3 linked regions of the Homo sapiens genome follow. The protein of the gene in region 2 purifies or fractionates together with the protein of the main gene of each other region. This does not show direct contact. Each region holds a gene or a part of one and is shown on either strand. Other genes may lie near its edges. The genes, in order: JMY, CPNE4 and BAHCC1.

Evidence for each region.
Region 1: the proteins of CPNE4 (region 2) and JMY purify together in Homo sapiens (affinity purification with mass spectrometry; one large-scale study listed by BioGRID and IntAct). This does not show direct contact.
Region 3: the proteins of CPNE4 (region 2) and BAHCC1 purify together in Homo sapiens (affinity purification with mass spectrometry; 2 studies listed by BioGRID and IntAct, with this or other methods). This does not show direct contact.

The regions. Positions count from the first base shown.
Region 1 is NC_000005.10:79,312,493-79,316,148, reverse strand, and holds part of JMY (junction-mediating and -regulatory protein), read right to left. Parts: coding exon 3,651-3,656; intron 1,893-3,650; coding exon 1,298-1,892; intron 150-1,297; coding exon 1-149. UniProt on the Homo sapiens protein: Acts both as a nuclear p53/TP53-cofactor and a cytoplasmic regulator of actin dynamics depending on conditions. In nucleus, acts as a cofactor that increases p53/TP53 response via its interaction with p300/EP300.
Region 2 is NC_000003.12:131,552,453-131,556,108, reverse strand, and holds part of CPNE4 (copine-4), read left to right. Parts: intron 1-557; coding exon 558-612; intron 613-3,617; coding exon 3,618-3,656.
Region 3 is NC_000017.11:81,464,141-81,466,984, forward strand, and holds the end of BAHCC1 (BAH and coiled-coil domain-containing protein 1), read left to right. Parts: 3' UTR 1-2,191; downstream 2,192-2,844.

The sequences.
Region 1 (3,656 bases), on a different chromosome or scaffold from region 2:
CTTCAATTTTACCCCTTTCCTTATTTGTGCCAAGATATTATTACTATCATCTTCATCAGGAAAAGGAGGCAGAGTTCGCTGTTCAACCTTTTTCAGATGAAAACTACCACGCTTCAAGGAGGCTAGCACCTCATCCATGGGTGAGCTCACTTTGGAAAATGAAACAGAACAGTATTACAGTTAGGACTGCACTTAATTAGAATGAAACTGTATAACCTCTACCGTTCGCAACTGTGAAAGCACAGGACGCTGAAACACCATCTTCAAAATGGATCATGAAATGTGTGCAGAAGGTGATCAGAACACAAGGGATCCTAATTATCCTTCTTTTTAGAAAATCCCAAGACCCAATCCATGGTGGGTACTGTTGGTATTCCTATCATTTCCTACATGAGAGAAGTGACCAGATTGGGAACTGGGAGGTGGTCTTAGTAGTATTATGGGTGTGATTCCCAAAGGATTTCCATATTGCAGTTGCTCCACCCAAATTCAGAGTGATGGGGTTACACATTTTGTTTTTAAAAATTAATTTTTGTTTATTATGGAGACTGTGCTTTTTTCATTTAGTTGTTTTACATGTGAAATCCTACTCAGATTACATCAAGAAATGTTTTATAGAATGGTCCTTCAGGTTAAAATGTAATATACAAGTAATATGTAACATTTATATAATGTTCTCCCCATGCAAAATGCAAATTCCTTAAAGGCAAAAGGCAAGGGTTATTCTCTGCTCTTTTTAGAAATAATTTTATTTGTGCTTGAATCTCTCTTAACAAAAAAAATTAGAAAAAAAAATAGTAACCTTATTGAGGCACATCTGTCACATTGTAAGTTGAACAGATTACTCCCTGTTCTTCTTTGCTTCTTTATACAAATACACAAAAGTCCTCAACAAATGTATGAACAAATGTTACATGATCCTGCCAATGTCTTCCCTGTGGTGACAGTCCTTACCAGATATCTTACCCTTTCTGATATGAGTATTTTTTTAAAAATCTCAGGTTTAAAATCAAAACTTTTTCCCTAACACAAAAGGAGCCACCCATTATACATTACCAAACATGAATGTATCACTTTAGAAGATCTGTTTTTAAAACATGCCTAACAGCCCAAGAAGGCATACATTTCTGTGTACTTTATGCACTAAGAATTCTCCTCTAGTGTGACTTTGAAAACCTGTTTACTATCAAATAATGTCAAAAATAAAGTGTTTTAAGCTTTGCAACGTCAAAAAATATAGTTTTTTACTATGCCTGATGTCATACAACAGATGGACCATGAAAATATGTTGACGTACCTCTCCTCCTCTGCAAACCTTCAGCAGTCTTTCTGAGCTTCTTCCGTGCACTGACCAGCTGGCTGCTGTCAAAGAGGTGTGCTGAGGGGGCACTGGCTGACTTTGGGATCCTCTTCTCATTCCCCTCCTTTCTAGGCAGATCTTTCTCCAGTGTCTCTGGGCCACTGTCCTTAGCAACAGGCAGAGGTGGTGGTGGTGGGGGAGGGGGAGGAGGTGGGGGAGGTGGTGGTGTTGGAGGAAGAGGGGATGGGAGTGGATTTATGGTAACAGAACATGGTTCGAGGTTGTTATTCAAAAGTGGAAGAGATATAGTGGGAGGCAGTTCAGAGGTAACACCACTGAGAGGTAATGAGGTGGCTTCAAGTTGTGTTAATGAAGTATCTTCAAGTTGCACAAGGCTCTGGGGTTCTGTTGTCTGTGATGGCCCACGCTTGACTCTTCCTTCTCCCACCTCTTCAGTTTTCTCTTCTACCTGTAACACACTTGGTAAAGAGTCACAATGATCCTCTTGGAGAACAGGACTTGCTGCACCTTTTCTTCTTGCATGAGCTAGTCGTAATCTGGTTGATTTAAGTATGACTTGCCCAGGATACCTCTAAAATACCAGAAGTTATTGGAACTGGTTAAATGTTATTGAAACAATTTATGAGCACATGCCTATTTATTTTCTCCTTCAAATAAAAGATGTTATGTGGCCGGGTGTGGTGGCTCACGCCTGTAATCCCAGCACTTTGGGAGGCCGAGGCGGGTGGATCACCTGAGATCAGGAGTTTGAGACCAGCCTGGCCGACATGGTGAAACCCCGTCACTACTAAAAATACAAAAATTAGCTGGGTGTGGTGGCAGGCACCTGTAGTCCCAGCTACTCAGGAGGCTGAGGCAGGAGAATTGCTTGAACCCGGGAGGCGGAAGTTGCAGTGAGCCGAGATTGTGCCACCGCACTCCAGCCTGAGTGACAGAGTGAGATTCCATCTCAAAAATGTTATGTTGGCTTATTGGTTATTTCACCCTTAAAGTTATACAGAAAATCCGAAAGTACCTAATAATAGCTTACAAACAATTATGAATTTATTATTTGCCTATCAAATCCACGATTGATAATTCAAATATTCAAAATTATGATTAAAAAAAGATTTTTAGTGAATAAAACTACTAAATGTATAAAACAAATAGCATGTAAAATGCAAAACATAAGTGATGTCAAATGTATAAATGCTACTGGTATGCAAAAAGTTTCCTATGTTTTCAAATGCACACACGAGAAAATTAAAATATTCTTTAACAGGTTACTTGGCATTTTTAAAAAGCTCCATCAACTATATATCCATTTTATGACAGAATGAAGAGAGAAATACATTTTTTTCAGTACTTACTGGTAGAACTCTTATATATATTTTACCATGGTAAGACCTTTTGTTTGTTTGTTTGTTTTTGAGACAGGGTCTCACTCTGTTGCCCAGACTGGAGTGCAGTGGTATGATCACAGCTCACTGCAGCCATGACCTCCCTGGCTCAGGTAATCCTCCCACTTCAGCCACCCAAATGGCCGGAACCACAGGCATGTTCCACCATGCCAGGCTAATTTGTATAGAGACAGGGTTTCGCCATGTTACCCAGGCTGGTCTTGAACTCCCCGGCTCAAGCAATCCACCTGCCTCAGCCTCATAAAGTGCTGGGATTACAGGCGTGAGCCACATTTACTTAATAACAAGGCTTTTCCCCTGCCTCACCTCCTTTTTTTCCACTGTAACACTTGTTCAAAAGCCTACTTCACCTACAAAGTGATCCTTCAGCATGCATAACTGAAGTAAGGCTCCAGAGTACTTTAAAAATGAGAACTGTGAGGCTTCAGCACAGTTCTGAGGAGATGTGTGGATACTGTGGTATCAGTGTGTGGTCATGGCTTACCCTGGCAAGAGAACTGCTGAAGCATTTCTCAAATATGCTGCTCCCCTCCACCTCTAATTCTGCCAATGGTCATTTGATGTATTACCACCACAGGCTGATGTATGTGGAATAAATAACATGCTGATGCTTGAGCTGGATAGTCAGTTGTGATTTAACTAATTTTTTAAACTCAAGAGGAATCTAGGTTTCCCAGAGGCCCTTATCATTCCTCTTATACTACTGAAGCTGTGGGTCAAAGGTCACAAGAATACTAAATTCGGAAAACCACCAGAGGAAATGGAGCCATGCCATTAAAACAATTTTAAAAAGGACTTCCATGGTTATAATAGTTTATAAATAAGGGAAAACCAAGTTTTTCCCACAAAGAAATCCTACAGGTGTATATGTAGCTCTGTTAAAAAAAAAAAAAAAAGAAAAACAATAAATGGACCATTACTTTTAATACCTGTTT
Region 2 (3,656 bases):
AGCCACTGCACCTGGCCCCATTGCTTTTTAATATCCATTTCGATTCAGTCTTATCTGTATTTGAACTCTAGCTCTAATTAGTGGCATGATCTTGGGCAAGTCACTTTACCTCTCAAGGCATTTCCCCACCTGCAGAAGGGGAATAACTATCTCTCCTTGTATTTTAAAAGATGATACATACAAAAGGTTCTAACACAGTCAACCATTACAGTTACCTAGTTCATGGTCACTTTTCAAAGGAAACAAAGTTGAAAGTTGAAGTGGAGGCCATTGATGAAAGGGTAGGGCCATTTTATTTCTTAGTATAGAATCTAGCAAAAAAATTAAGGGAGGAAGTTGTAGACTAATGACTGTAATGAACTTAAGGGGCTGTTTCTTGATTTTAATTATCCATGCTATTGCTACCCCCATCACCACAGACAATCAAGAAGCATGAGTCAGCACTGGCATAGCAACATGGCCTAGCAACCTAGTAATGTAGGTTAATGTTTTTCTTTCTCATTAAATGAATAAATGAAGCAACTTCTTGTTTTTTCTTTTCTTCATTTTGGTTTCAGTGACAAAATGTTCCCTGCCTTTGGGTTTGGCGCCAGGATACCTCCAGAGTACACGGTGAGTGAGTGGAGATGTGATCTTCTTCCACTTCACTGTGGTCAAAGGATAACTTGGCTCTTCTTTGCAGCAGTCTCACACTCCTGACTCTGACCTAACTGTGTCAGTAGGGCCTACAGAGTCAGAAATTGTCTTCAGAATCAGTGAGATTAACTCGCCAGGGCCCGTCTCTTGATGAAACCCTATCTCCTGGTATTTTGGATGGGTCTTCTCAGAGGTCCAGATGAAGAGTTTCATTGTTTAGTTTCTTATAAATGTGGTCAGAGTCTGAGAAAACACTCAAGAAGTTGATCTCCAGGGGCTCAGAACCTATTCACTCGTATATCCCCTAGGAAATAGAATTCTATTGGCAATGCCAACTGGGAAAGTCCGTGACAATGGAGTCTACAGACTTTCTTATCCCAAGTCTCCGAGTCCAAGTCTTGTATGGGAGACACAGAGAAGTTTTGAAGAAAGAACTATTATGACTTAGAGAATTGGGAAGCTGAAATGTTCTTCTGAAGACGTTGGAATCCTATTTGGTTTTGATAATGATTTCTCATGACAGAAAAAAGGCAAAGATTGTGTGTAGATAAATTTGCACTGTAATGAGGCTGAGACACTACTGTGATATTCTAGATGCTCCTGTAGAACATTCTCCACAGAGAACTCGTGCCCACTAGGTGGACAGGGCCTTGGAGAGACAGCAGGGTACCTCTCCCAGCCTCCACCTTACCAGTGCCTCTGAGGTCTGAGCTAAGTACAAACAACACTGCCCAATCCTCAATTTCTCTTTTACTGGCTGTGTCTGAGCCACAGGTGAGGAGGTAGATGCTGACATTTGCTCCCTCACTAGAGCCATCATATAAAGGGCTTTCCCCTTAGGTATCCTTTTTGAAAGAGGAAATCAATATCCCTGTTGCTCCTAGAGTGAATAGTGGATGGAATCGCTTGTCTCCCTGACCTGTTCTCCTTCTTTCTTGCCTTGTATTCCACACTGGCCTTTCTGCTGGGCATAGCTACATAATTCTAGAAGCATTTATTAGAAATACAGCTTGTGGAGAGAAAGAATATAGAACAAGAGTTATCAACTGGTGGCCTATAGACATTATTCAGGCCACAAATATGTTATATTTGACACACTTTTAAAAAACGAATTCAGCAATTGCATATATAAAATGTCAGATTTCTGGTTTCTCTTGAAAACCTGAAAGGCCTGGCAACACTAAGATTAAAAGATGACCGATACAAGAATAAGCTGGAGCTGAGGAGATATAGGCCCCTTCAAATCGGGAATGTAAACAGGTGAATGCCCACTTTCTTCATAGAGCTGCTGAATAGCTCAATAGCCATCAGCCCAACTACCCAGGGATTCTTGAGTTTTCACCACATCCCCACCAGGTGGTCTTCCAGCCTCAGGTTGGCCCAACAGGGCTGAGGACAGAGCTATGCACCATACCTTTTTCTCACTAATGACATCTTTTTGGTTCCCTTCCTGGAGTAACTAATCTTTCTTGCTGTTTTCTGAAGTCCTCTTGTTCACTTGATCCCCTAACTCCATCCTTCCTGTCAGCAAAATCCCCTGGTTATTCTTGTTTCAATAGGCATCTCTCACATTTCCCCATTTCGGGTCCCCTAATTTCTCCCATTCCTCAGACAAGCACTGATGATTTGAGCAGCTCAGGTGCCCCCAGGAGAGTTTACAAGGTTGCCACAATTTACTTCTTAGGACAAAATCTGAAAGTATGCATTGAAACTGAAACACAAGCACCTCTCTTTCTTAGTTAGCACTTTCTCAGAAACAGATCTTGAGACAAGGGTTTGGATGCAAATAGTTTATTTAAAAGGTGAGGGAAACCACAATAGAGGTTGGGAAGTGGAAGTCAGCACAGAGTATATTATCAAGTCAGTTACCGCTGTTGGCAACTGGTGCTTAACTCTGCTGAAGAACCCTAGGAGACAATATACAGCACACATGGACCCCAAGGGATAAGGGAGCTGGGATATGTATACATCACCTCCTGTTAATTACTGATTACTCCCAAGGGTCACTTTTAGCCTGTCACTTGGGCAAGCAAGGCAGGCCCTGGAGGCCAAGAAAAAACTTAAGGTAAACAAAGCAAATAAGATGACTGAAGTCAGCTGGCTTACCTGGAAGTGCTAAGAGCAAGGGACTAGGATAAGCACTGAGAGCATCACCGATCACCTCCCACTAAGAAAACAGGTGTCTTTTAACACAGTGACCTAATTTATGGATACCCAAAAGAGTCAGAGCTTGGAAATATCCTTTGAAATGAAATTCTCCATAAAATACCAAATGATTCAATAAAAATGTCCAGATGCCAGAACATCTATCTTGTTTTATCAGGTTTTCGGAAAGAAAAAAGTAAACAATATGTTATTTGACCTTGTGCATAGGTTCTGCCAGGTAGAGGAATTTGTGTTGAAATATTACAAAGTATATTACTTTACTATGTTTCCAAAAGTAGAGTGCAGTCTGTTTTACCTGTAGGTATGTGAAAATCCTCCTGCCCTGTAGTTCTGCATATCATGTTAATGATTCTTAAGTGTCAACTGCTTAGCTGAAGCTTTTATAACCATCGCTATCTTCAGCAGACAGCTTGGGTTATTGAGTTTTTTTGTTTTTATTTTTGTTTTAATCACTGGGTCCAAATAGAGCTCAGCCAAATCTAAGCCTCCAGTCTGTGGCCAGTTCTAACTAGCAGCTATTCAAAGTTATCTTTCTGAAATCTTTTCTTGGATTTTTTTATAAGCCTTATTCTCCCCTCCTGACAGCATTTATCTGATTCTAGAAAATATTCCTGTCACCTCAACTCCACAGGGAGCTTAGAATTCACCCTCCATCTCATATTGATTGTGTAAAGGCTTGAAATGGTTCCTGCTGCTTAACACATAATGAATATAATGGGCATTTGTTTGCAAACTCTAAACCCCAGTGCCTTCTTACTGGATTAAAGTTGTAATTCTTCTTTCTTCCTGTTTTTTAAATTTTAATCGGTGTCTAGGTCTCTCATGACTTTGCAATCAACTTTAATGAAGACAAC
Region 3 (2,844 bases), on a different chromosome or scaffold from region 2:
GTACCTCCGACTGTCTCCCACCAGGGAAAGCAGAAATCAGGTGTGTTGTCTATTTATTTCTCTATGTAAATATTGTATTTCTGCGGGGAAATTTTATGGTAAAAAGTGGAAAAGGGTTTTTCCCCATCCGCGTGACAAGGTGTGTGTGAGCGTGTATGTGTGTGCGCGTGTGTGGCGATTTTTGTCCTGGGGTTTCCTTTGGAAATGCACTGTTCTCAGCCCAGCTGGGTTCCAACGGGGGCACCTGGGACGACAGAGGCATCTCGGGGCAGGGGGCAGAGGCCACGGGAGGGTCAGGTGGGACCCTTGACGGCACCCTCTGATCTCTTGGGGGGACGACCGTGTAAGATGAAAGTCGGTCAAGTTTATTTGCTTTCAGTGCATCTCCTAGAAAAGAAGTGTTGGAGCAGGGGGTGGTGATGAGGGGCCCGTGGGGAAAGGATTCAAGAGGCAAAGCCCAGACCAGGGAGTGTGACAACAGCCGTGAGCATCTCACCTGTGTTCAAAACAAGACAAAGACGAACAAATATTTTAAAGTATTGATAAGAAAAAGCAATGTTTGGATTGTATCTGCTGAATCATATTCCAACCTATATCTGATTTCTGTTTCCGGGGCCAGTTGGTCTGAGGCCAAGGAGTCTGGCCTCCACCCAGAGCAGGGAGGGGCTGGCCCCTCGCCCCCCTCACCCTCGCCGCCCTGGCACACTCGGGAAGCAGGGCCCAGCTCTGAGCCCCTCCTCACCCCTGGGGTCCTAACTTTCCTGAAAGTAGTAGGTGCCGTGAGAAGGGGCAGTTTGGCCAGGTTCCTGAACTGGGCAGGGCTCGGGGCCTATGAGGGCAGGTTCACAGTCCCACCAGATTCTCTCCTCACCCCCAAGCAGAATGCATGCAAAAGACACCCCTTTTCCCACCCACCTTATTGGTGCCCCCAAACCCCTGGCCTGCTGCGTAGATGGTGGTGAGGCCAGGCCAGCAGTGCTGTGGCCAGGGGAGAAGAAAATAAAACGCAGGCCCTGCCCTTGGGGAAGGCCCCTTTCTGGGCCCCCTTTTCCACCAGCCAAATCTGCCTGGCCCTCGGACCCCTCTGCCTGCCCCAACCCCTTTGGAGGTTTCTCGGCCTTTTCTGTGCCACTTGGTGGGGCAGATGGCCTGATGGGCTAGTGCTTGGGGCATAGAATGAGGGTCCCCCTGACCACCTGAGCCCAAATCCTGGCCCCAGGTGCAAGCAGCACCCCTCGAGGGCTCTGCCCCAGTATCCCCAGGGAATTCACACCCCTCCCCTTCTCCCACAGCCAAGGACAGACAGGCTGCCTGGACCTGAGCCCAACAGCCTTCAGCCTCAGAAACGCATGGGGGGCCACACACTCCTTATATCCTCCCACACTAAGGTTCCCCTGGCCCCACGGGAGCTTCAGGAAAGCCCCCCAAGTTAGCCACTGCTCTAGGACGAGCTCTGTGTCCCCCACACCACAGGCCTCGAAGCAGGGTGCTGGTGGGTGCCCTGTACCCCAATCCCAGGTCCCCTTGGCCCCCTATTTTTCTCGGGCCCATTGGGGCCTGTTTCTCACCTGCTGGCTGGACCCCCTGAAGGGCCGTTCCCAGAGGCTCCCCAGGAGGCTCAAGGCTGGGGGCTTATGTTGTGGTCGGGGGTCCCCGCCTCCAGCCCCCCGCTCCCACCCCCGAGCCTACCCTTTGTCTCGCATGAGTGCAATATTTCATTCCCGGTGGTTGTCTGGGGAGGTGGTTGGACGAGGTCCTGCTTGAGGCTCGGGGATCAGAACGATGTCAAGTGAAGAAAAATGCACGGGGGCATGCTGAGCCACTGGAGTTCCAGAGAGGGCCGAGGAGGGTGCAGCCACGGAGGTTGGATCCTCTGCTCCGCCGCCTCGTCCTCGTCCCGCTTCTGCTGGGTTCCGCTTTGTCCCTGGTTTTTTCCTTTCTTTTTCTGTGTGCGTGCGAATGGTGCGGCCCCTCCCCTCTCACCGTGGTTAACGTGACGAAGGCACGATTCCTGTAAATGTGTAAACTAAGGGGATGGTTGGATTTTTTTTCAATGTAAACACTAAAAACAAAATGGACAAAAAAACACACAAAGGTTTTATGAACAGCAGACTCTATGTAAAGGCATTTTAGTATCAAATTTTTTATTGATAACTTGCTTAAGAATAAATATATGGACTATTGTACAGGTTTTCGGTGGTCCAGGGTCCTGTGTCCCACGGTACTCCTGGGGGTTCCCCAGGGCTCCGGGGGCTCAGCAGAAGCCTCTCGTTCCCAGAGCTGGGGCTTCTGGGCCAGGCCTCCCCACCGCCCCCTGTGTTGGCCCAAGTGAAGCCCCTCAGGCCAGGAAAGGGTCATGTGACCGGAATGGGCTCAGAGTGGTCTTAGGGGTGGGGTCCCTCCAGGAGGAGGGCCCCTTTCCTGGTTGCTCTCACAGTCCCTGTCCAGCCTGAACCAGTCCAGGGCCAGAGTAGGTTCCACTGGAGAGGACGAAGGGCAAGAGCAGTCTCCGAGCCGCCACGCTGGGCAGGGTCTCAGACGTGAATGACCATCCTGGGAGGGGCGGCCCACGGCCCGGGTGTGGGAACACAGATGAGTGCACCCCCAGCTGGAGAGAGCCCTGTTCATGAGGCTGCAGACCCAGAGGAAGCCGGATGCTTGCAGGGGGTAGGGGACCCTCCTTGTTCCCCCTCTGCCGCCGGGATCTTGGGAAGCTGCATGAAGTCGGTGCACATCTGTCCCAGTGGGCCCTGAGTGCCTGGTCACAGCTGCGTCCAAGGCCAGGAAACATGGTCCTTGGAGGACGGAGTCCCTGAGTCAGCAGTGCCTTCCTGGGCCGGTGAG